Linked DNA regions of Homo sapiens. The protein of the gene in region 3 purifies or fractionates together with the protein of the main gene of each other region. This does not show direct contact. Each region holds a gene or a part of one and is shown on either strand. Other genes may lie near its edges.

Region 1 (3,500 bases), on a different chromosome or scaffold from region 3:
TCCTGGTGTCTACCCACAGAATTTTCTAGAGACCAACACAGCCCTCCACGAAGGACCTCTCCCCCAAGCACAGGCGTCCAGAGACGCCACGTGACACCTCCACTCCCTGCCGGCCACACAGGGAAGCTGTCTGTTTATCGTACCCACAAGACCCCTCTGGGACGGGGGTGGCCCCATGTTCTGGGCGTCACAGCTCAGCACCGCTCAGGGCTGAGCCAGCCTCAGCTCCCACCCAAAAATGGACGTTTCAGGGTCTTTAGCCGACACCACAGACACCCAGCCAATTCCCAGGGCAGTTTGAATGGCAAAAGCACCCGTTTCAAAGGTGCTACACGATCCACAAGCATGGGGGCGCGTCCGACCCAGCACTGGCCCGGCCGCCACAGGGGGATGCTCACCATGCTCCCCAGACACACCTCCAGGGAGAGAGGCCCCGCTCGGCCAAGGCCATGCCGCCCGAAACACTAACCCAGATGGGCCAGTCTTTTCAAAGGTGGTTTTAGTTGGAAAGGCTGCATTTCCAAGATGGTTTAGTTTAGACATCCCACACCCCCCTACACCATGTCACACCCCCTAGGAGGGCCCCTCTGCGGGCGCCAGTGTCCCCCAACCCCAGCCACCTGGGGGGCTCTTCAGGCAAAACAGTCATGTCCGAAGCACAGACACAGAAGGGTTTTCACCAAGGCTGAGCAGACGAGGGGACAGGAAGAAATCAGAGACACCTGCCACATCACCAGCCCCGTGATGACGAGGCCCGCCGCCCCCGCCCCAGGCAGGACACTCACCAGACAGCTCGTGCAGGTCCGACGCCCTGTGCCTCCTAACCAGCTCGTACTGGAAGCCTGTGGTCCTCCGGCCGATATCCTGCTGCGGCGTGGCCTCCACGAACAGGCCGCCCTGCTCCAGGCCAAAACACTGCACCCGGCCGGGCCTGCCGTCCCCGTCTGGTACCAGCAGTCTCAGTTCTCCAGTTTTTTCCAAATAAATATTGGCCCCCGAGGAGTCCGTGAAGGACCTGATGCACACGGTCAGGTGCCGGGCAGGCGAGAAGGTGTTGGGCCGCAGGTTAACGATGAGAGCACCTGTTGGGTACATCCACTCCACGGCACCCGCCGCACAGCGCAGATACACCTGCTCCACCTCCTTCCTGTGTGCCTCGTGCGTCAGCCCGCTGCAGAGGAGAGACACTGTCAGCCAGGCCCGGAGCTCCCGTCACACACCCCACCCGCACCCACAGAGAGTCAGTGAGGACGATACCCGCTCCAAATGATGGCGGCTCCTGGACCCACCCGCTGCCGGCCACAGGTGCCACACGGACCCCTGCCCGTGAGGCAGGCCGGCGCCATCTCCGCCCTTCGGCACAAGGGCCCCACCCAGTTCCTTCCAGTGCACCTGCACCAAGAGCCATGGTGGGGCGGGGCCGAGCTCCCGGGAGTGCAGGCGGTGCTTGTCCCCAGGCCCTCCAGACACCCTCCAACACTCAAGAGTCTGCGCCTCTGCTGCCGTAGCGTCAAACACCAATCTCTGCGATGTCCCTGAATCAGGGTGGCTGGAGGTGCTGGGGCAGTGGGATGGAGCCCCAGGGAAGGGATGGATTCCTCCAGAATATCACGGAGTATCACAGGAATGCCAGCAGGCCCTGTGTACCAACCCTGGTTCCAGATGACCACGAGGGCTGGGACGCTAGAGGTAAAGCGAAGGTGGGGCCCCACCACGTGTGAAGGAGGAGCCCTGGGATGCAACCTGCCCAGAGAGCAGCTTTTAAGTTAATCCAGAGTGTTGGCAGTTTGGGGGGAAGGAGGTTGTAGATGAGTTTTGTCTTTTAGCACCTCATTAAGCATAGATGTTTGTACATTTCTCAAAGTAATGACTTGACCGTTTTCTGCAAGCCTGAAGACCCTGCACTGCCGACGGTATTTGTAAATATAAGCTATCATTACAGCAAGACTCACCACAAAAGCGAGGCGAACTTCCTCCACAGGGTGAGTAGTGTGTGAGTAGCAAGCTAAGTTCACCCTCATACATGCTAAACAGAAAAAAATGAAGTGTGCTACACTCTTGGAGAGGCAGGTCCTGAGTAGAAACAGTTATATTTTCAAGAAACTGAAACATCAAAACCCTCACGCTTCTCAACACTTTAACGTAAATGCCAGCTCGTGGCTAACAGCCACGTCATAACCAAGTGGGCCTGGAACTAACCCGGTGACTTCAACTAAGTGTTTTATTACGCAGATCTCAGACAGGTTCACCCACATTCTTAGGATTTTTATGTGAAATAAGCAATGCTGTTTCCAGAGCCCTGGCCTGAGCGAGTCACCAGAAACCCTTTCTGCAGCAGAGAAAATGCATCACATATGGTTTGCATTTACCGCTGGTGACTCACACTCTGGGCCCCCAAACCTCACTCTTCATAGGCTGCAGGCCACATCAGAGGGTGGTGTCGAGGGTGCACCCCTCCTCACCCTCTCCCCACCCCGACAAGGCCCCAGGTCACGAGTGGCCAGGCCTAGCCGGCTGCCAGGATCACACACCCAGAACAGACTCACAAATTACAGCCCATAAAGCTCACACAAGCTCATCTAACACGTGTGTGGGCAAGGGCACGATGATCGTGCTGTGTGGAAACTGGACTCGGTGAGTGGCTGATACACTCAGCTACAGTCAGCTCTCTTCTTATGCAGCCTCATCGTCACGTCTCTCCCTCCCGTCTCTGGCATCGAGGCCACTGTCCTCCTGCCCGTGCTCAGGCACCGAGCCTCGACCCTCTCTCCACATACACCGTCCTGACACGTTGCCTCCCTCTCGGGGAGTCCTGAAGGTCGAGGGAGCGGGCTCTGGTCACCTCTGACAGCACTGCCTTCATCTGAGCAGGCGAGGGGAACAGCCACAACTCAGCTGGGGACAGGCGGCCAACCCACCTCTGCCCAGGAGGAGGCCGACTTGAGCCTGGGGGCCGTCCTGGCCTAGCACATGCTACCCGCATCTGGTGGGCACGCCTGGCTCCACCCACTCAGAAGACACTGGGCAAAAAGAGGAAGAGGACAAAATGAAGGTGGACACAGAAGAAAGAAGACACCCGGCTACCCCGGCCTTCACCTGACGTCTTCTCAGCGCACTCAGACGGGTCTGCACCCAGCACAGGGCCTGCTCCCCTCTCCTCTCACATTCTCCCGAAACATCCAGACCAACGGGACTCCAACCAGACCCGCTGACGTAGGGATTTTCACATTAAAATCAGTAGCACATGATGCGCAAGACCCGTGTAGACAAAAAAAGTTAAACGATGCATCCTTCAGCCTGGGACCCAGCAGACCTCGGCACGAAGTCCGAGACTCATGGTCTGTGCTGGTTCCTACCAGAAAATCGAGTGCCTCAAATCTCTCACCTCCAAATATCCAGCACCTCAGCAAACCTGAAAACAGAGTCTGTTTATGCAAAATTGCTGGCATTGCAAAAATGTGACCTATCTTTAATGGTCATGGATGAGGGCATTTTGTGAT
Region 2 (3,500 bases), on a different chromosome or scaffold from region 3:
AGGAGGCGGAGGTTGCTGTGAGCTGAGATCGCACCATTGCACTCCAGCCTGGGCAACAAGAGTGAAACTCCATCTCAAAAAGAAAAAAGCAGAAAATAATTGATGTGGTTTGGCTGTGTCCCCACCTAAATCTCACCTTGAATTGTAGCTCCCATATTTCTCACGTGTTGTGGAAGGGACCTGGTGGGAGATAATTGAATCATGGGGGCCGTTTCCCCCATACTGTTCTCATGGTAGTGAATAAGTCTCACAAGATCTGATGGTTTTATAAGAGGTTTCCCCTTTCACTTGGCTCTCATTCTCTCTTGCCTGCACCATGTAAGATGTGCCTTTCGCCTTCCGCCACGATTGTGAGGCCTCCCCAGCCATGTGGAACTGTGAGTCCATTAAACCTCTTTTTCTTTATAAATTACCCAGTCTTGAGTACGTCTTTATCAGCAGTGAAAATGGTCTAATACAGTAATGTTAGGTATCTGTGGAATTTTTCAGTCATTTATTTATACCACAAACATTCGCTAAGCACCTACTAGGTTCCAGGCTCCTATGAGTTTGTAAACAAGACAAAATCCAGCCTTCAGAGAACTTACATTCTAGTAGGAACTTGAATTTATCCCTCATATCTCTCCCCTAGATTGTAAATCCATGAGGCCTGGGACTTTGTTTTGTCTACTGCAGAATCCCCCACACTAGTACAATGAGCAATAAACATTTTCTGAATGAACAAAGTACCAAATATACATGCAAATAAATAAGATAATCTCAAACAGGAGTTGTAAGGATTATATGAAACAGTCCATGTTCAGAGCTTGGCACAATGCTTGGTACATCCGTGGTATTCAATAAATATTTGTTGAATAAATGAGTAAAGTAGTCCCCCCTTATGTGAGGAGAATACGTTCCAAGACCCTCAGTGGATGTCTGAAACCATGGATAGTACTAAATAAACTCTATATACAGTCATGTGCCATATAACAACATGTTGGTCAACACTGAACTGTAGAGATGGTGGTCCTATAAAATTATAATAGAGGTGAAAAATCACCACAGCCTAAAGATATCACAGCTGTTGTAATTTTATAATGCAATGCATTACTTACTTGTTTGTGGTGATACTGGTGTAAACACACCTACTGTGCTGCCAGTCATAAAAGTATAACACATACAATTATGTATAGTACGTGATATTTAATAAACAACCATTTACGCGTTTATGTATTTACTATATTATTATCATTAGATAACTCCTTCCTCTTATATAAAAAAAGTCGGCTGGGCGTGGTGGCTCACACCTGTAATCCCAGCACTTTGGGAGGGCGAGGTGGGCGGATCACGAGGTCAGTGTTAGACCATCCTGCCTAACACGGTGAAACCCCATCTCTACTAAAAATACAAAAAAATTAGCTGGGTGTGGTGGCGGGCGCCTGTAATCCCAGCTACTCGGGAGGCTGAGGCAGGAGAATGGCGTGAATCCGGGAGGTGGAGTTTGTAGTGAGCGGAGATCACACCACTGCACTCCAGCCTGGGCAACAGAGCAAGACTCTGTCTCCAAAAAAAATAAAAACAAAAACAAAAATTAGCTGGGCGTAGTGGTGGGTGCCTATAATCCCAGCTGCTCAGGAGGCTAAGACAGGAAAATCACAGGAGAATTGAACCTGGGAGGCGGAGGTTGCAGTGAGCCGAGATGGTGCCACTGCACTCCAGCCTGGGCAACATAAGCAAAACTCTGTCTAAAAAAAAAAAAAAAATGAAACAGCTTCAGGCAGGTCCTTCAAGGAATTCCAGAAGGCATTGTTATCAATCATCTGAGATAACAACAGTTCTGTGAGTGTTACTGCCCCCAAAGACCTTCTAGCAGGATAACATGGGGAAGTGGAAGACAGTGATATTGATGATACTGACCCTAGGCCTAGGCTAATGTGTGTTTGTAGCTTAGTTTTTAACAAAAAAGTCTAAAAGGTGAAAACAAAATAAAAAACTAAAAACAGAAAAAAACTTAGAGAATAAGGATATAAATAAAATATTTCTGTATAGCTGTACAATGTGTTTTAAGCTAAGCATTATTACAAATGAGTCAAAAAGTTTTTTAAAATTTTAAAGTTCATAAAGTAAAAAAGTTACAGTAAGCTAACGTTAATTTATTATTGGAGGCCAGGCATGGTGGCTCACGCCTCTAATCCCAGCACTTTGGGAGGCCAAGGTGGGTGGAGATCACCTGAGATCAGGAGTTTGAGACCAGCCTGGCCAACATGGTGAAAACCCATCCATCTCTACTAAAAATACAAAAATTAGGCCAGGCACGGTGGCTCACGCCTGTAATCCTAGCACTTTGGGAGGCCGAGGCGGGTGGATTGCCTGAGCTCAGGAGTTCAAGACCAGCCCGGGCAACACAGTGAAACCCCATCTCTACTAAAATACAAAAAATTAGCTGGGCATGGCAGCGTGCACCTGTAATCCCAGCTACTCGGGAGGCTGAGGAAGGAGAATTGCTAGAACCCGGGAGGCAGAGGTTGCAGCGAGCCGATATTGCACCACTGTACTCCAGCCTGGGCAACAGAGTGAGACTCTGTCTTTAAAGAAAAAAAAAATCAGCCAGGCATGGTGGTGGGCGCCTGTAATCCCAGCTACTCAGGAGGCTGAGGCAGGAGAATCACTTGAACTGGGGAAGCAGAGGTTGCAGTAAACCAAGATCATGCCACTGCACTCCAGCCTGGGCAACAGAGCAAGACTCTATCTCAAAAAAAAAAAAAAAATTTATTACTGGAGAAAGAAAAAAAAATTTAAATAAATTTAGTATAGCCTAAGTGTACAGTATTTATAAAGTTTACAATAGTGTAATGTCCTAGACCTTGACATTCACTCACCACTCACTGACTCACCCAGAGCAACTTCCTGTCCTGTGAACTTCATTCATGTGCCCTTTTATACTGTATTTGTACTGTACTTTTTCTATGTTTATATACATACTTACCATTCTATTACAATTGTCTATAGTATTCAGTAGAGTAACATGCTGTACAGGTTTGTAGCCTAGGAGCAATAGGCTACACCATATAGCCTAGGTGTGTAGTTGGCTATACCATCTAGGTTTGCTTAAGTACACCCTATGATGTTTGCACAATGATGAAATCACCTAACGATGCAATTCTCAGACTATATCCCTGTCATTAAGCAATGCGTGACTACTGTTTTCCTATACATACACATCTATGAGAATTCTTAATTCATTAAATTTTTAAAAATTTTTATTTTTGAGACAGGGTCTTACTCTGTCACCCAGGCTGAAATGCAGTGGTATGATCACGGTTCACTGCACCCTTGACCTCCCAGGGTCAAGCAATCCTTCACCTTGGCCTCCCAAGTAGTGGGGACTACAGGCACGCACCATCATGCCCAGCAAATTTTTTTTTATTTTTTGTAGAGACGAGGTCTCACCATGTTGCCCAGGCTGATCTTGAACTTCTGGGGTCAAGCAATTCTCTCGCCTCAGCTTCCCAAAGCAC
Region 3 (4,095 bases):
TGCCCTGAGCACCCCCATCGACAACCCAGCAGCAACCCTCCAGCAACCCAGCAGGCACCTGCCTACACCCAATTTATTTTCCTTCCTTCCTTCTTTCCTTTCTTTCCTTCTCTCTCCTTCCTTCCTTTCTTTCTTTCCTTCTCGCTCTCTCCTTCCTTCCTTTCTCTCTTTCTTTCCTTCTCTCTTCCTCCCTCCCTCCCTTCCTTCCTTCTTTCTTTTTTTTGAGACAGAGTCTCTCTCTGTCGCCCAGGCTGGAGTGCAGTGGTGCGATCTCAGCTCACTGCAACCTCCACTTACTGGGTTCAAGTGATTCTCCGGCCTCAACCTCCTGAATAGCTGGGATTACATGCCTGTGCCACCACACCCGGCTAATTTCCTTCCCTCCCTTCCCTTTCCTTCTTTCCTTCCTTCCTTCCTTCCTGTTTCTGACAAAGTTTCACTCTTGTTGCCCAGGCTGGAGTGCAATGGCTCAGTCTTGGCTCACTGCAGCCTCCACCTCCTGGGTTCAAGTGATTCTTCAGTCTCAGCCTCCCGAATAGCTGAGATTACAGGTGCCCGCCACCACGCCTGGCTAATTTTGGTATTTGTAGTAGAGATAGGGTTTCGCCATGTTGGCCAGGCTGGTCACGAACTCCTGACCTCCAGTGATCCACCCGCCTCGGCCTCCCAAAATGCGGGATTACAGGTGTGAGCCACTGTGCCCAGCCTGACACCCAGTTTTCTCATGCTTCACCACTGACCCTTATCCCAGCCTGGGCTCCCTGACTTCTAGCCCAAGCCCTGGCCGCAGTCCTCAATCCTTTTTGCTTTCAAGCCAGTTACTGTTTTTAAATACTTTTTTTTTTTTTTTTTTTGAGACAGAGTCTTGTTCTGTCACCCAGCCTGGAGCAGTGGCACAATCTTGGCTCACTGCAACCTCCACCTCCTGGGTTCAAGCGATGCTCCTGCCTCAGCTTCCCAAGTAGCTGGGATTACAGGCACACGCCACCACACCTGGCTAATTTTTGTATTTTTAGTAAAGACAGAGTCTCACCATGATGGCCAGGCTAGTCTCGAACTCCTGAGGCCACCTGCCTCAGCCCCCTCAAAGTGCTGGGATTACAGGTGTGAGCCACCGTGCCTGGCCATTACCTACATGTTTGTTTTTTTTTTTTTTTTGATTACAGAAATGATACAGAATTGTCATAAAGAACTGAGAACACATAGCAGATCTTGAAAGAACTCAGCCCCTGGCTGGGAGCGGTGGCTCATGCCTGTAATCCCAGCACTTTGGGAGGCCGAGGTGGGGAGATCACGAGGTCAGGAGATCGAGACCATCCTGGCTAACACGGTGAAACCCTGTCTCCACTACAAAATACAAAAAAATTAGCCGGGCGTGGTGGCGGGTGCCTGTAGTCCCAGCTACTCGGGAGGCTGAGGCAGGAGAATGGCATGAACCTGGGAGGTGGAGCTTGCAGTGAGCCGAGATCGCGCCACTGCACTCCAGCCTGGACGACAGAGCAAGACTCCGTCTCAAAAAAAAAAAAAAAAAAGAACTCAGCCCCTGAGATGTCCCTGTGGGAACAGCCATGGTCACTGGGGAGTGAGCAGCCCTCAGCAGCTCTCTCCAAGAACATACATCATGTAGAGGCTCATCTATGCCTCTGCTGCAAGGTTCCTCTTCAGGCTGTGCCTGGCCAGGTGGGGGTTAATTTATTCTCTCCATCCCCCCACCCCCATCCTGTCACCCACCGTCCCATGTTCTGGGCTTACCTGCGCTCCGTGGAGTTCTAGGCCTGGGAGGAGCAGAGTGTACAGCCGAGCCCCAGGTGTGACTGTCTCTGGCACCTGAATCATTTCCCCAGCTGGCCAGAGTGGAGGTCAGGGAGGATCTGCTCAGGCCATGCCTGCCCCCACCCTGCCGGCTGCCCCTGGCCTCACCTGGGCTGGCAAATTGACCAGCACACTGGATATGGCTAAGGTCCCGCTGCACATCCACAGAGAGTGAGCCCTCCATCACATGGTTGCCACATGTGAACTTCAGCTGCACCTTGTAGTGGTTCACCATCAGGGCATCCAACTGAGCAGAGCTGCTCAAGGTCAACTGGGGTGGGTGGACAGTGCCATGTGGGGCTTGGAAATTTTAGGTCTGCCCTTGTGCCCCCACAGTCCCCAGCTGTACACATGACCCTACCTTGCCCACATAGGTCCCTTGCCACCTGGCCAAGCTGGGTGGGTTGAAGAAGGTGGTGGGTGGCTGGACATTGAGCAACTCCAGGGTGGGTGTGGGCGTGTAGGAGGAGCAGTTGAAGGATAAAAACTGAAGGACTGTGCCAGGGCCCTGGCTCTCAGAGACATTTATAAAGCAGGGCAGGCTGCAGAGGTCTGTGAAGAGCAGAGAATTCAGGCTGGAGGCCCCCAGGCTGATGGAACCACACATACTAGCATAGTCCTGTCCTTTTGCCACAGGGCCTGGCCATGCCATGGGGCCAAGCAGCTAAGGCCTTTCCTTGTATCCAGCATCCAGCATTTCACAGATGGGGAGTGAGAACTTGACTGAGGAAGTGGCCAAGAGAAGGGGTGAGGGCCAGGGGTTCAGATTCTTACACTTTCCTACCTCTCCCCCAATCCCTGTCCTCCATGGTAGCTTATCTGGGAAGGGTCAGGACTCCAAGGGAAAACTACGGTTCCCCCACCCACCACCTCCTCACCAGAGACCACCGGAGCAAAGAGGAACACGAGGAGCCTGAGCAGCACCATGATGACCTGAAGACACAGACAGCAGAGGAGGCTTCAGAAAGCTAGGCTGTTTGTCTGACTCACCCTGTTGCCAGGTCAGTTGCTCAAACATAGCTGGGCAGGCGGGACTCCTGGGCCTCCCAGATTCTATCCCCACCCATCCCTGGTGACTGAGTTCTAGACCTCTGGCAGGCTTCCAGAGGCTCAGAATATCCCATTTTCCATTGCCCCCATTCATTACAACTCTAAGGGCATGGAAGGGGAGGAGGATTAAGGTTCAGATGAGGAAACTGGTCATGCAATCCGTGGAGATAGAGCAAGCACAGCACCCAGGAAAATTTGGCCCAGGACCTGCTACCCCACAGAGTCTCAACTCCAGCTGGACCCCCTCCATTAGAACATTATCTGCCTATAAAAAATGAGCCCAACCGTCAACAAAATCTCTCAAAACTTGCTGGGTGTGGCGGCTTACATCTGTAATCCCAGCACTTTGGGAGGCTGAGGTGGGAGGATCACTTGAGCTCAGGAGTTCAATATCAGCCTGGGCAACAAAGTGAGACCCCATCTCTACAAAAAATTAGTTGGGTGTGGTGATCCAGGCCTGTAGTCCCAGCTACTCTGGAGGCTGAGGTAGGAGGATTGCTTGAACCCCAAGAGATCGAGGCTGCAGTGAGTCATGATTGTGCCACTGTACTCCAACCTGAGTGACAGAGCAAGACCCTGTCTCAAAAAAAAAGAAAAAAGAAAAAAAAAGTTGTCTACATCCAACAAGCAAAAGGAATCCTTTATGATAGAAATACAAATACTGGTTACCGTTGGGAATATCAGTTGGATAGGGCACCAGGTGGCATCCAGGAGTTGCTGAGGATGTTCTATATCTGGGTGGCAGCTGCACAAGTGTCTACAGATTTTAACATTTACTGGGCTGTAACTTTGAGATCTGTCTATTTATTGTATTTATATGTCAGTTTTTTTAAGTTTTCTGGCCAGGCACGGTGGCTTATGCCTGTATGGGAGGCTGAGGCAGGAGGATCGTTTGAGATCAGGAGTTCGAGACCAGCCTGGACAACATGGTGAAACCCTGTCTCTACAAAAAAAAAAAAAAAAAAAATTAGCTGAGTGTGGTGGCACATGCCTGTAGTCCCAGTTACTTGAGAGGCTGAGATAGGAGGGTCACTTGAGCCCCAGAGATGGAGGCTGCAGTGAGCCAAGATCATGCCACTGCACTCCAGCCTGGGTGACAGAGTGAGGCCCTGTCTCAAAAAAAAAAACAAAAACGGTTGTCTTTATTTGCCATCTCCAGTTCTTCAGTCCTCACTCTCTTCTCCACACACTCTAATCAGGCTTGTCCCTCTCTACACAAAACTGCCCTTGTCA
Region 4 (3,500 bases), on a different chromosome or scaffold from region 3:
TACAGGCATGCGCCACCACACCCGGCTAATTTTATATTTTTTAGTAGAGATGGGGTTTCTCCATGTTGGTCAGGCTGGTCCCGAACTCCTGACCTAAGGTGATCCGCCTGCCTCGGCCTCCCAAAGTGCTGGGATTACAGTTGTGAGCCACTGCACCCAGCCAACTTTCAGATGTTTTATAGGCATTTAAGCTGCTTTAAACTCTGCTACTTTGAAGTACGTGAATCTCTGCCAAGAATCTTTAAAAATAAAAACTTTAGTAACAGATCTTGTGAAAATTTTTAATCTAATAATAATATCCTAAAGCTAAATCAAAAAATGAGCAAAAATATACCTAAAACATAGGAGAGAAAGAACCTATCAAATCAGGGACAACTGAAAGCAGCATTCTAGTTCCCGGGTGGTGGCAGCTCTTAGGGAAAAGACGGGTATTGTATGTCAGGCTGACACAGTGGGGAGGCTGTCGCCATTTAAGGGTTCCTATATATGGCCTTTGCATAGCCTCAAAATGTCACTTTTGAGGGTCTGTTAGTTTGGCTTTTTTTTTTTTTTTTTTTTAGAGACAGAGTCTTGCTCTGTCGCTCAGGCTGGAATGCAAGTGGTGTGACCTTGGCTCACTGCAGCCTCAACCTGCCAGGCTCAATCAGTTCTCCAGCCTCAGCCTCCTGAGTAGCTGGGACTACAGGCATATGCCACCATGCCCAGCTAATTGTTTTGTATTTTTAGTAGAGATGGGGTTTCACCATGTTGCACAGGCTGGTCTCGAACTCCTGGACTCAAGCAGTTCACCCATCTTGGCCTCCCAAAGCACTGGGATTACAGGTGTCAGCTACCATGCCTGGCCGTTTGGGTTTTTTTTTGTTTTTGTTTTTGTTTTTTCCTGAGACTGAGTCTCACTCTGTCGCCAGGCTGGAGTGCGGCGGTGTGATCTCGGCTCACTACAACCTCCGCCTCCCGAGTTCAAGCAATTCTCTTGCCTCAGCCTCCCAAGTAGCTGGGACTACAGATGCATGCCACCATGCCCAGCTAATTTTTGTATTTTTAGTAGAGACAGGGTTTCATCATGTTGGCCAGGATGGTCTCCATCTCTTGACCTCATGATCCACCCACCTTGGCCTCCCAAAGTGCTGGGATTACAGGCATGAGCCACCGCGCCAGGCCTTGGTTGTTTTTTAATGCACGAACATGACATTGCATAAATAATTTCCACCAATCTTGAATCTGTAGTCCTGAAACACTACTAAAATCCGTATTTTGTAGCAAATCAACATTTTAAATTTCACTTATAAAGACATATTTCTTCAAGCAACTCTTTTTTTTTTTTTTTTTTTTTTTTTTTGAGACGGAGTCTCACTCTGTCGCCCAGGCTGGAGTGCAGTGGCGCGATCTCGGCTCACTGCAAGCTCCACCTCCCGGGTTCACGCCATTCTCCTGCCTCAGCCTCCCGAATAGCTGGGACTACAGGCACCTGCCACCACGCCTGGCTAATTTTTTGTATTTTTTTTTAGTAGAGACAGATGGGGTTTCACCGTGTTAGCCAGGATGGTCTTGATCTCCTGACCTCGTGATCCACCCACATTGGCCTCCCAAAATGCTGGGATTACAGGTGTGAGCCACCGCACCCGGCCCCTTCAAGCAAGTCTTCACACCAAATTAAGACCCACTAAAAAAACAAGTTTTAATGATCTAAGCCCTCAACCAGAATACATAAGAAATAGACTCTTGGCGGTTTTTTAGGATAATCAGATCTCTATTTTGTTTCAACTCTTATAAATGAAAACTACCCAAAAAAATTAAAAAACATACTTTCCTGTCTCAGAAAGCAATAATAAAAATAACTCAGTACTTTTTTTCCTTTGTTCTAAAATTTTAACCTATCTCAGCTTCCTCATTTTAAACATTTAGACTTGGTTTAATAAGCTTCACTAAGTCCTGCAGCTAGTGTTACGAAATTACAGCATTTTCTATTTTCAATGTAATATTTTATATCCCACAAAAATTTCATTTTTTGGTCATATTCTTCATAACTAAAACTGAAATATTATTTGCGTTTTTGGCTTGAATATCAAATACTGGCACAGATAATGTATGTTATGACCTCCTAAACCTTCCTTTTGAAAAATAATTCCTATAAAACTGCTTGGTTTCATGCTTTTTCTCCCAAAAGAAATATCCAGCCAAAGGACGAATTCCAGCTAACTGAAGGTTCCAGTTAACCGAGTGAATGCTCTAAAATTGGAATATATTCAAAATTGTTCGTATTTTATTATTTCTTCAGCAGTTATAGGTCTCCTTTGAGAAATAAATGTTATTTACTTTCAGTATTAAAAATGTTAGACTATGGGTAATACTGAGGTCTATATTCGAACGACTTTTTTCCACATCGTTACTTCTGAAAAAACGAGGTAACAAATTAAGAAACCATCTTCCCAAAAAAGCTGAAAATTATAGTATTTTTAAAGGGACTAACAGGGGTAGCCACAGAGCTACAGCCTTCAAAGGCTGAGACAGAGTTTCATGATCTAATATCCCCAATACTGCAACCAACAGAATTGATCCTTGAACTTTTTTTTTTTTTTTGGTATTTTTGTAGTGACAAGGTTTCACCATGTTGCCCAGGCTAGTCTCAAACTCCTGGGCTCAAACAATCTGCCTGCCTAGTTCTCCCAAAGTGCTGGAATTACAGGGGTGAGCCACCGAGGCTGGCCCCATGATCCTTGAAAATTTACCCACTAATGAATTCCCATATCGACACTGCAGAATTTAAGTTTGGGCCGGGTGCAGTGGCTCACACCTGTAATCTCAGCACTGTGGGAGGCAGAGGCAGGCGGATCACTTGAGGTCAGAAGTTCAGACCAGCCTGGCCAACATGGTGAAACCCTGTCTCTACTAAAAATACAAAAATGAGCCCAGTGTGATGGCATATGCCTGTAGTCCCAGCTACTGGTGAGGCTGAGGCAGAAGAATCTCTTGAACCCGGGAGGCGGAGGTTGCAGTGAGACAAGATCGCGCCATTGCACTCCAGCCTGGGTGACAGAATGAGACTCTGTCACAAAAACAAAAACAAACAAAAAAAAAACTTAAGTTTGCTTTACACTATGTAATTTTTTTCAGTATATAGCATTTATCTGTAAAGTGAAAATTAGGATGCAAAGCTACTACGCTGTCTAAACTGAAATGCTGTTATCCATCCACCCATTCATTCATTCAATCACACAATACTGGCATGCCTCTGGTGTGCTGGTGACGGGAAACATATGCAAAGCAGATACCCTTCCATCTTGGGGCATATGTTCTACTGAGGGGAAACAGACGATAAACAATTCAATAAGTAAACAACAAGGCATGTTAGAATGGGCTAAGTGCTATGCAAAAAGAAAAAGTGTTGCAGGGAAACAGGATTTAGGGGTTCAGGAAGAGAAATTATTTCAAATAGGATGGTGAGGGGAGGTCTCACTAAGCCTATGTGCAAATGGAAAAGTAACAGTGAATTTTATGTA
Region 5 (3,500 bases), on a different chromosome or scaffold from region 3:
CTTTCTTCCTATGGCCCCCCAATCCCCAACTCAGTGTTCTCCATCAATGTAGGTGAATCTCTTTATATGCCTGTTGGTAGTCCTTATCCTATTTTACTGTGAGTGTTAAGTGTCTGCTTTTTCCACTGACTGGGAGCTTCTTGAGGTGAAGTATCTCATACTTAGATTTTTATCCTTTATTTGATGAATAATGCAGCAACTAGAAAGAATGCCTCAGTTTAAACATATTGCTTGTATAAATAAGAAAGATGTGTTTCAACAGCACATTCTTTAAAAATCAGAAATCTGAATAGCAGAAATAGAAAAAAAAGACAGTAAGAGCATTCGAAAACTTTAATTAGGAAAAACAAACTATAGTTGAAAATATCTTTACTTATAAAGAAGTCAGCTGATCTACAAAACAAAGTGTGCTTCTAGAATCTTTGGGAAAGAGTCAATTATATAAGTCCCTATGTGAGGAGGAGGAAAAATGTCTCCTCTTTTCATATTCCTATTTTAAAGAAAGAAAGAAAAAGGGAAGGTAAATTAAGATGTATATGAAAATTCTGTGAATTTGATGATTCCAGGTTATCTGATGAGCTTCTAATGATTCCTTAGTGGTATTATAACTTCATGTGAATTCACTCATAAAATTATATGTTCTTGTGATAACAGTATGTTTCTTAAAGAGTCAATATTGGTTTTATAAGCAGACTTAACGCTGGTACTTTTTCAGGTGTTTTATTATATGTCATTCTCAGGCACTACAATTTTTGCATAAGCTCATATCCCAGATTACAATAGATGTATTCTTTATTGATTGGGAGCGACCTAAAGGAAAGGTTCTTAAAGCTGTTGAAGGTAACTGAAATAAAAAATATTTGTACCAAAATTCTTTTGCTACCCTTGCAGAGCAAAGGAGGTAAAACTCTTTTACTCATTTTATTTTCCTGACCAGGTGAGGGTGGTGTACGAAGTGCCACTGTTCCTGTAAGCATATGGAGAACATATTTTGTAGCAAATGAATGGAATGAAATTCAGACTGTGAGAAAAATTAATTCACTCTTTCAAGTACTTACTGTCCTCTTCTTTTTGGAGGTATAAACTGTTTGATGTGATTATATGCGACTTACATGTACCTTATAAATATTAAACTAATATAATTCCAACTAAGTTTTCATGACAGTGGAAGATTTCTCTAAAGGTTGAAATATTGTTGTGAAGCCATTAAAAAGGAGTACCTTTATGTTACGTATTTTACCACAATTCTTTTTTTAAGTTTACCATCTTAAGCATTTTTAAGTGTAGAGTTTAATAGTGTTAAGTTGGCCAGGCACAGTGGCTCATGCCTGTAATCCCAACACTTTGGGAGGCTGAGGCAGGCGGATCACCTGAGGTTGGAAGTTCAAGACCAGCCTGGCCAACATGGAGAAACCCCGTCTCTACCAAAAAATACAAAATTAGCTGGGCATGGCGGCACATGCCTATAATCCCAGCTGCTCGGGAGGCTGAGGCAGGAGAATTGCTTGAACCCGGGAGGCGGAGGTTACAGTGAGCCGAGATTGCACCATTGAACTCCAGCCTGGGCAGAAAGAGCAAAACTCCATCTCAGAAAAAAACAAACAAACAAAAAGTAGTGTTACGTACATTCACATTGCCACGCAAAATCATCATCACCATTCATCTTAGAACTCTTCATCTTGCAAAACTGAAACTCTATACCCCTTAAACAACTCTGTACCCATTCCCTGCTACACCTAACCCCAGGCAACCACCATTCTATAATACTTTCTGTCTCTGTGTGTTTGACTGCTCTAGGTGTAAGGAGTAGCTTTAAAACCACTGGTTTGTATCAGAATCCCTTGGGGATCTTTTGTAAAATACCTATGCTCAGGCTCACCCTTAGAGACTATGTGTTGATTTAGTAGCTTTGAGGTAACTCCAGGTATCTATATTTTGAAAAAGCTCCCTACCCCCGATCCATATTCTCCCCTGCATTAGAATCACTATTATAAGTTTGATATTTTTCAACAAATTTGTATTGAACACTTACTGTAGACTATGTTCTGTGCTAAGAGCTGGGGCTACACTGAACAAAACACAACATGTTTGTGATACATATGCAGTTATTTCATGGATTTGGTTGGAATTATTAAAGGAAGTATTCAGTACTGAGTATAAGACTGAACATGGAAACAGTTTATATGGGAATAGGTTTTCTCAGGAATTATCTGCTTAATTAAGATTGAATATAAATCATTAACTCTTAGGTCTGTCTGTCTGCCTTCCCTCTTTTTTCTTCTTTCTTTCCATTCTCTTTCCCCTTTCCCTTCCTTTCCTTTTATAAAACTAGTAGAAGAATGTTTGTATCCCTAGGGCTTTAAAATAATATGAACAAGACTTCCAAAGTTCACTTGAAGTGGTATTTTGGTTTTTCTTAAATGGACAGATAAAAATTACATATGTTTATAGTTTACAATACAGTGTTTTGATATATGTATTCATTGTGGAATGGCTAAATCAAGCTAGTTTATCTGTTACCTCACATCTTTTCTTTTTGTACTAAAGTAGTGTGTGTGTGTGTGTGTGTGTGTGTGTGTGTGTGTGTGTGTTTAAGAGTTTCCTCAGCTTTAAAAGGTGTTATGTGAAAAAGTTTTATGGTCAAGTAAGTTTGGAAAATATTGGATTCAGTATAATCATGTAGCACCTTTTACTGTAAAACTTCTCAGAGCCTTTATTCTACAAGGGTGGGAGGCATGGAGGTGAGTGTAATGGATGGACCAAAAGTATTTAAACATAGATTCTTTTTTCAAGAACTTATGTCCTTTAGAAGACATTTTGTAATATACTGTTTTAAAGTATAAAAATGTTTAGTACAGTGCCTGGCACATGTCAAATACTCATGAAATACTACTTGTTGGTTTCACTCATTGGTAGTTTACTGATGAAAGTTTTATCCTTTTAATTAAATTTTTAGTCTTGTCAGTGTGTATGACAATAAGGTTATATTTGGCCCTTAGTCATATTGAGAAGAATGCCAAATGAGCTAACTAAATATTGTGTAATAAATACTTTGTAGTTAAAATACTATATAATAATTATTTTTATCTAGATTTTCTACTGTTTATACAAACTTAGATATTTTAGTTTTTCAAGGTGAGTAGGGAGAGGTTTTCTGTTTTCAGTCTAGAGTAGTTTTCTTTATCCATGTCCGTTTAAATTACTACTTTTCCTTTTTACTCCAGGTTGTGGGATTCAAGAACTTAGCATTAATGGACTCATCTTCTAGTCTTTCTAGAAACCCACCTAGCTACATAGCTCCTTATAGCTGCATTTTGAGATATGCAGTGTCTGCTGCTCTTTGGCTAGCCATTGGAATTATACAGGTAAGGAATTATACAGGTAATATTACTTCTAAGTAACATTGCTTCTTTATAACTCTGCCTAATTACTGATTATCATCAAATATTGACCACATCCTTCTTTCTGTAGCAGAAAGAAGGTGACAAGAACAATAGCTA
Region 6 (3,500 bases), on a different chromosome or scaffold from region 3:
AATTAGCTGGGCCTGGTGGCGGGCGCCTGTAGTACCAGCTACTCAGGAGGCTGAGGCAGGAGAATCACTTGAACCCAGGAGGTGGAGGTTGCAGTAAGCCAAGATCGCGCCATTGCACTCCAGCCTAGGCGACAGAGCGAGACTCTGTCTCAAAATAAAATAAAAGTAAAAATAAATAAAATAAAATAAAATGAAATAAAGTGTGTCCCAGGGCCTAGCACATAGAAGGTCTTAAACAAATGTTAATTTTCTCCTCTGACCTCAAAGAAACTAGGGCAGCACTTTCCATATAATTCTCTGCAATGGTGGAAAAATTATCTATCTGCTATGTCCAGTGTGGTGGCTGAGCACTCAAAATGTGGGTAGTGGGATTGAAGACCTGAATTTTTGCCTTTGCTTGACTGGATTTTGAAAAAGAAAAAAAAAAAAAAAAAAAGCGGGCCAGGCATGGTAGCTCACGCCTGTAATCCCAGCACTTTGGGAGACCGAGGTGGGTGGATCACCTGAGGTCAGGAGTTCAAGACCAGACTGACCAACATAGTGAAACGCTGTCTCTAATAAAAATACAAAATTAGCTGGGTGTGGTGGCAGGTGCCTATAATCCCAGCTACTTGGGAGGCTAAGGCAGGAGAATCTTTTGAACCTGGGAGGAGGAGGTTGCAGTGTGCCGAGATGGCGCCACTGCACTCCAGCCTGGGTGACAGAGCGAGGCTCCGTCTCAAAAAAAAAAAAAAAAAAAAAAGGGCAGGGTCAGGCACAGTAGCTCACACTTACAATCCCAGCACTCTGAGAGGTTGATGCTGGAGGATTGCTTAAGCCCAGGAGTTCGAGACCAGCCTGGGCAACATGGCAAGACCCCATCTCTAAAAAGAAAAGACCTGAATTTTATTTAATTTTAATTAATTAATTAATTATTATTATAATTTTGTTTTTTGGTTTTTTTTTTTTAGGCAGAGTCTCGCTCTGTCACCCAGGCTGGAGTTCAGTGGCTTGATCTCAGCTCACTGCAAGCTCCGCCTCCCAGGTTCGCGCCATTCTCCTGCCTCAGCCTCCCGAGTAGCTGGGACTACAGGCGCTCGCCACCACGCCCGGCTAATATTTTTTTGTATTTTTAGTAGAGACGGGGTTTCACCATGTTAGCCAGGATGGTCTCGATCTCCGAACCTTGGGATCCGCCCCCGTCGGCCTCCCAAAGTGCTGGGATTATAGGCATGAGCCGCCGCGCCCAGCCAATTTTAATTAATTTAAATAGCGACAGGGGCTAGTGGATACCACAGTGAACTATGGAGCTCTAATGACTTGGAATCAGCTGGAGAAATCATATATATATATATATATATATATATATATATATATATATATACACCTATATATATATACCTTTATATATATATATACCTTTATATATATATACCTTTATATATATATATACCTTTATATATATACCTTTATATATATATACCTTTATATATATATACCTTCATATATATACATATATATATATACCTTCATATATATATATATACCTTTATATATATATACCTTTATATATACCTTTATATATATATATACCTTTATATATATACCTTTATATATATATACCTTTATATATATATACCTTCATATATATACATATATATATATACCTTCATATATATATATATATATACACCTTCATATATATATATATATATATATATATATATATATATATACCTTTATATATATATAAATAACTGAGACTTTGTCACCAGGGATAGAGAAGTGGCTGCTACTTTGTAAATTGGACAGGAAGGTGGCCACTATAATCTGGAGATTAAGCGATGGGGATTAGGGATAGAGATGCTTTTGTGATGTGGATCAGATCAAATACAGATGGGTGAAAGATGATACTTCCTAAGCAGGATGCAATTATTCAGCAAACTAATCTGTGTTGTTCCTGCCCCTGGGGACAGAGCTGGGAGCAAGAACAACAGGTCCTCCTCTCATGCACTCACAGCCTATGAGATGAGCAAAAGCCAATAATCAAGTAAGGAGGCTACGCATGCACAATGGCTTATGGCTGTAATCCCAGCATTTTGGGAGGCCAAGGCAGGCAGATCACTTGAGTTCAGGAGTTTGAGACCAGCCTGGGCAACATGGCACAACCTCACCTTTACAAAAAAATTAGCCGGGCGTGGTGACATGCGCCTGTGGTCCCAGCTACTCAGGAGGCTGAGACAGGAGAATGGCTTGAGCCCAGGAGGTGGAGGTTGCAGTGAGCCAAGATTGTGCCACTGCACTCCAGCCTGGGTAACAGTGCGAGACTCTGTCTAAAAAAAAAAATAGATAAAAAAATAAAATTAAATTAAATTAAATTTAAAAAGAAATTCAAAAATAAGAAAAATTTTACAGGCTAGGTATAGTGGCTCGCGCCTGTAATGCCAGCAGTTTTGGAGACCCAGGCGGGAGGATCACCTGAGTCCAGGATGTTGAGCCTGCACTGAGCCATGATGGAGACACTGCACTCCAGCCTGAGCAACGGAGCAAGACCCTGACTCAAAAAAAAGAAAATAAAGACAAGTATCAAGGCAATGGTTTGTAGCTAGAAACACAGAGCATCCTGACCCAACGGCACCAAGGAGGGAAAAGTATTAGACACATGCTAATACTTCAGACAAAGAATTTGTTTTTTTTTTTAGACGGAGTTTCGCTCTGGTTGTCCAGGCGAGAGTGCAATGGCACGATCTCGACTCACCGCAACCTCCGCCTCCCGGGTTCAAACGATTCTCCTGCCTCAGCCTCCCGAATAGCTGGGATTATAGACATGCCCCACCACGCCCGGCTAATTTTGTATTTTTAGTAGGGATGGGGTTTCTCCATGTTTGTCAGACTGGTCTCAAACTCCTGACCTCAGGTGATACACCATCCTTGGCCTCCCAAACTGCTGGGATACAGGCGTGAGCCACCACGCCCGGCTGACAAAGAATTATTATCCCCATTGTAAAGATGAAGAAATTGAGGCTTAGAGTTTAAAATCTTGCTTAAGTTTTGTAGCTCTGAGAGGGGAGAGAAAGCCTGTGTGGGAAGAAGCAGACAGGAAAGGCCTTCTCAGAACACGACTGGATCTGAAAACCCCTCACCTGTCCACACCTGAGGCGGCTCCTCTTCCTGCTCTCGCTCAGCCTCCTCCAAAAAATCTTCCAGAAGCTTCTCTGCTTTTTGAGCCTCAGCACTCCCTGGGGCCGCCCAGCCCAGAAAGGTTCGGACACTGCCCAGGTCCGAATGGGCAGGGTGGTCTCGGAAATCCTGAGGGTGGTCCTGCAGCCAGGAGCCCAGCACTGACACCACAGCCCTGGCCAGAGAGGCAGGGTCTCAGAGCTGGGTCCAGAGTGGGGGACATAGAATATGACTCCTGGTACCTTTTTTTTTTTTTTTTTTTTGAGATAGAGTCTTACTGTGTCACCAAGGCTGCAGTGCAATGGCCTGATCTTGACTCACTGCAACCTCAGCCTCCCGAG
Region 7 (3,500 bases), on a different chromosome or scaffold from region 3:
AGGCAAGATGAAGCTGCTAAGTTACTTGGGACTCTTGAACTGTCTGCATGATCCAGCACAGATGTAGTCAATCTGCTATTTGATATGAGTTTGCCTCCTCCCACTTAGTGTTTGGGCAATTGAAAGAAGGAAGGGAAATTCCAGGACAGCCAACCAGTCTAGGGGAGGGGAGGTAGAACTGGGGAAATACAAAAGTATCAATGAAAAAAAGGAGAAAGAACACATAGGAAACAGATGCCTAAGGAATGAGAGGCAGATCAACCTGAGGAAGCTGATTTAAAAGAAGAAAAAAAGAAAGGGAGGCAAGCAAGGTATTTGTAGAGAAACTCTGAAGGTGGCACTGTCAACTGATGGTTTATTTTTACTAAAAGAGTGCTGAGAACTCTGTCTGGAGTGAATGTGGTTACAACTATGAGGTACTGAGTTTATTACTGTTGCCAAATTGAGAGCAACTTAGCAATGACTGTCAAAACTCTAAACACATATTCTAAGGGAACAACAATCCCATTGTTAAGGACATATTCTACAGACACACAAACTCAACAGCAATGATGTTCACTGATTTGTTCATAGTTGCAAAAAACTGTAACAACCCAAATGTACATTAAAAGGGGAATGGTTAAATAAATCATGGAATGTGAAAATATTAAAAAGAACAAAGTAACTATATATGCTGATGTGGAAAGCTGCTCACACTGTTTTAGGAATGAAGAAGGTTGTGAAATATTTACACTAAAATTCTATTTGTGAAAAAAAGAGTCAATATATTTGTTTGCAAATGCACTGAAACTATCAGGAAAGATAAAAAAGGGAGCTTTATCTTTGGGGTTATTTCTGTTGGGGGTGATGAAGAGTTTGATGAGAGATTTTTATTTTTATTTACTTTCCATTTTATATCTTTCTATATTGTTTGCACATACACTGTTTATATGAACTTTGCACAAAAAATACTGTGCAGTTGTGAAGAAAAGGTAACATTATGTACAAACATAAGTTTCCAAAACCTAGTATTAAGTACAAAAAGCTAGTTTTGAAATATTATGCATAATTTGACCTCACTTATGTTTTTAAAAATTATGTACAGGAGTATTCATAAAAAGAAAAAGATGGAAGGACACTCAAAACTTGTTTAACAATGTTACCTATTCAGAGAAGAGAACATTTCCATGTAACCCGAGTTTTAATTTCTAAAGAGTAAAACAAAATATTAAATTGTCTCTCCTACCTCTAGAGAAGGATGTTGTTGTAAAGGACTAGAAGTGACTCAATGACAGTCTAGTTATTTCCACACTGTGGCTCTCAGAGTAAGATTATAAATAAATGGTCCCAGGCTTTTTAAAGTCTAAAAACCATTAGTCTAATCACAAACTCATCATTATAGGTGACAAATACAAAAACCAACTTTGCCTAAGGTTACATTGTGGCAGAATAGAACTAGAAACTAGGTGTTTTGACTGCTAATTCTTTTTGTTTCTAATCATACCATGAACCATATCTAAGGAAAGCCAATATTGGCTGGGCTCAGTGCCTCATGCCTGCAATCCCAGCACTTTGGGAGACCAAGCTGGGAGGATTGCTTGAGGCCAGGAGTTCAAGACCAGCCTGGACAACATAACAAGACCCTGTCTCTACAAAAATAAAAAACTAGCCATGAGTGGGGGCATGTGCCTGTAGTCTCAGCTACCTGGGAGGACGAGGCGGGAGGATCGCTTGAGCCCAGGATATCAGGGCTGCAGTGAGCCAAGATTGCGCTACTGCATTCTGGCCTGGGTGACAAAGTGAGGCCACCTCTCAAAAAAAAAAAAAAAAAAAATTAAAATTTAAAAAAAAGGAAAGCCAATATTTATTGTTCATTGATAATCTAACTACTAGTCTATTATGTACTAGGGACATGTACTTAGTAGATGATAAAGGGTAAAAGACAGCAAGACACAGACTCTACCTTGGAGAAAAACTGCAAACACACCAGAGAGACCCTCAGTGCTGGAGAAGAATCTGGACAGATCCCTCCTTATCTATAGCAAAATTGGGGCTTGCTCTTAGGAACCCCTACTCAAAGACTCAGACTCCACAATACATCCTACATAAAGTCAAGGGAAGAGGGAGACTCCCCCTCTGCAGTCATAGCTTAGAAGATAAAATAAAAACAAGTTTTTACAATACATATTGTGAAGTGCCGGTACATCAGTCCGTTCTCAGGCTGCTAATAAAGACATACCTGAGACCGGGTAATTTATAAAGGAAAGAGGTTTAATTGACTCACTGTTCCGTGTGGTTGGGGAGGCTTCAGGAAACTTACAATCTTGGTGGAAGGGGAAGAAAACACACCCTTCTTCACATGGCGGCAGCAAGGAGAAGTGCCGAGCAAAAGGGGGAAAAGCCCTTATAAAACCATCAGATCTCATGAGAACTCACTCACTATCACGAGAACAGCAGCACAGGGTAACCACCTCATGATTCAATGACCTCTCACTGGGTCCCTCCCACAACACGTGGGGATTATGGGAACTACAATTCAAGATGAGATTCGGGTGGGGACACAACCAAACCATATTGGTCAGTTACGTGTTAGCCATAAGATCAGATCCTAGTTATAGAGTAGTGAGCAGGGTAAATGCTGTCACTGCCTACATAAAGCTTCCTTCACTAGCTGACCACAAGGCTCACAGAACACAGACTGCAGCGGCCATACCTGACAAACAATACAGACGCAACAAAAATAGTTCAGAGAAGTCACAAAACAAGCAAGAAATCAAATGCTAAACATAGAATTACACACAAAAAAGAATAATTTACAGTGAGGGTAGGAAAGAAGAATAAATACAGGGTTCATCAGATCAAGAGGTTGACCAAAGAGGTTTTTGTTGATCTAATGTGATTTATCCACTGAAAAGCAGTAATTTCATGCTAAAATGCCATTAATGAGTGTTTTAATGTTAATGGCCAAAAAATGCAATGTGCCCAACAAGCATTTTCATATACATACCAATTCCTTTAATCAGGTGGCAGTGTGGAAGGTCTACAGATTCTACTTCTCTGGAGGCTTTAAGTCGATTTCTGTTACAAAGAAAAAAAAACAAAAAACAAAAAACTATTTGTTTATGTATTCCCTGCTTTGTTTTAGAAAGGGTTTAAAGAGGCTTACAGCAATACATAAAACACAGTTTAAGTCTAAAGCAGATGAAAGAGAAAATAGAAAGACAAGGGTAGGAAAATAAAACTGCACCAGAAATGAAGTTAAAACAAAAATGCCTATTGCAAAGTTCTATATACTGATGTGGGTTATTAAAAAAAAAAAGCCAATAACTCAACAAATAAAACTTATAATGCAAGTTCCTATGCAAATGTAAACACAGCACCATGTCACATTTCTCAGTGTTGGTGTTGTGGGAAAAGAGTTCCAGATGTAGAACCAGTAGCCCTGTCTTCCTTCTGAAGAGTCAAACGTGAAAAATGACTGTAAGCCTCACACAGAGACTGCAAAGAAGCCAAGAGAAAAT

The links.
Region 1: the proteins of CDHR4 (region 3) and METRNL purify together in Homo sapiens (affinity purification with mass spectrometry; one large-scale study listed by BioGRID and IntAct). This does not show direct contact.
Region 2: the proteins of CDHR4 (region 3) and EDEM2 purify together in Homo sapiens (affinity purification with mass spectrometry; one large-scale study listed by BioGRID and IntAct). This does not show direct contact.
Region 4: the proteins of CDHR4 (region 3) and CLSTN1 purify together in Homo sapiens (affinity purification with mass spectrometry; one large-scale study listed by BioGRID and IntAct). This does not show direct contact.
Region 5: the proteins of CDHR4 (region 3) and TMEM67 purify together in Homo sapiens (affinity purification with mass spectrometry; one large-scale study listed by BioGRID and IntAct). This does not show direct contact.
Region 6: the proteins of CDHR4 (region 3) and RGL3 purify together in Homo sapiens (affinity purification with mass spectrometry; one large-scale study listed by BioGRID and IntAct). This does not show direct contact.
Region 7: the proteins of CDHR4 (region 3) and PON2 purify together in Homo sapiens (affinity purification with mass spectrometry; one large-scale study listed by BioGRID and IntAct). This does not show direct contact.

Annotation. Positions count from the first base shown.
Region 1 is NC_000017.11:83,082,609-83,086,108, reverse strand, and holds part of METRNL (meteorin-like protein isoform 1 precursor), read right to left. Parts: intron 1,172-3,500; coding exon 786-1,171; intron 1-785. UniProt on the Homo sapiens protein: Hormone induced following exercise or cold exposure that promotes energy expenditure. Induced either in the skeletal muscle after exercise or in adipose tissue following cold exposure and is present in the circulation.
Region 2 is NC_000020.11:35,126,837-35,130,336, forward strand, and holds part of EDEM2 (ER degradation-enhancing alpha-mannosidase-like protein 2 isoform 1 precursor), read right to left. Parts: intron 1-3,500. UniProt on the Homo sapiens protein: Involved in the endoplasmic reticulum-associated degradation (ERAD) pathway that targets misfolded glycoproteins for degradation in an N-glycan-dependent manner.
Region 3 is NC_000003.12:49,797,074-49,801,168, forward strand, and holds the start of CDHR4 (cadherin-related family member 4 precursor), read right to left. Parts: upstream 2,801-4,095; 5' UTR 2,746-2,800; coding exon of another isoform or gene 2,740-2,745; coding exon 2,691-2,739; intron 2,365-2,690; coding exon 2,174-2,364; intron 2,084-2,173; coding exon 1,921-2,083; intron 1,845-1,920; coding exon 1,753-1,844; intron 1-1,752. UniProt on the Homo sapiens protein: Cadherins are calcium-dependent cell adhesion proteins. They preferentially interact with themselves in a homophilic manner in connecting cells; cadherins may thus contribute to the sorting of heterogeneous cell types.
Region 4 is NC_000001.11:9,817,466-9,820,965, forward strand, and holds part of CLSTN1 (calsyntenin-1 isoform 1 precursor), read right to left. Parts: intron 1-3,500. UniProt on the Homo sapiens protein: Postsynaptic adhesion molecule that binds to presynaptic neurexins to mediate both excitatory and inhibitory synapse formation.
Region 5 is NC_000008.11:93,796,394-93,799,893, forward strand, and holds part of TMEM67 (meckelin isoform 1 precursor), read left to right. Parts: intron 1-740; coding exon 741-840; intron 841-937; coding exon 938-1,077; intron 1,078-3,224; coding exon 3,225-3,365; intron 3,366-3,500. UniProt on the Homo sapiens protein: Required for ciliary structure and function. Part of the tectonic-like complex which is required for tissue-specific ciliogenesis and may regulate ciliary membrane composition.
Region 6 is NC_000019.10:11,412,815-11,416,314, forward strand, and holds part of RGL3 (ral guanine nucleotide dissociation stimulator-like 3), read right to left. Parts: intron 3,335-3,500; coding exon 3,123-3,334; intron 1-3,122.
Region 7 is NC_000007.14:95,421,529-95,425,028, forward strand, and holds part of PON2 (serum paraoxonase/arylesterase 2), read right to left. Parts: intron 3,058-3,500; coding exon 2,987-3,057; intron 2,161-2,986; exon of another isoform or gene 1-2,160. UniProt on the Homo sapiens protein: Capable of hydrolyzing lactones and a number of aromatic carboxylic acid esters. Has antioxidant activity. Is not associated with high density lipoprotein.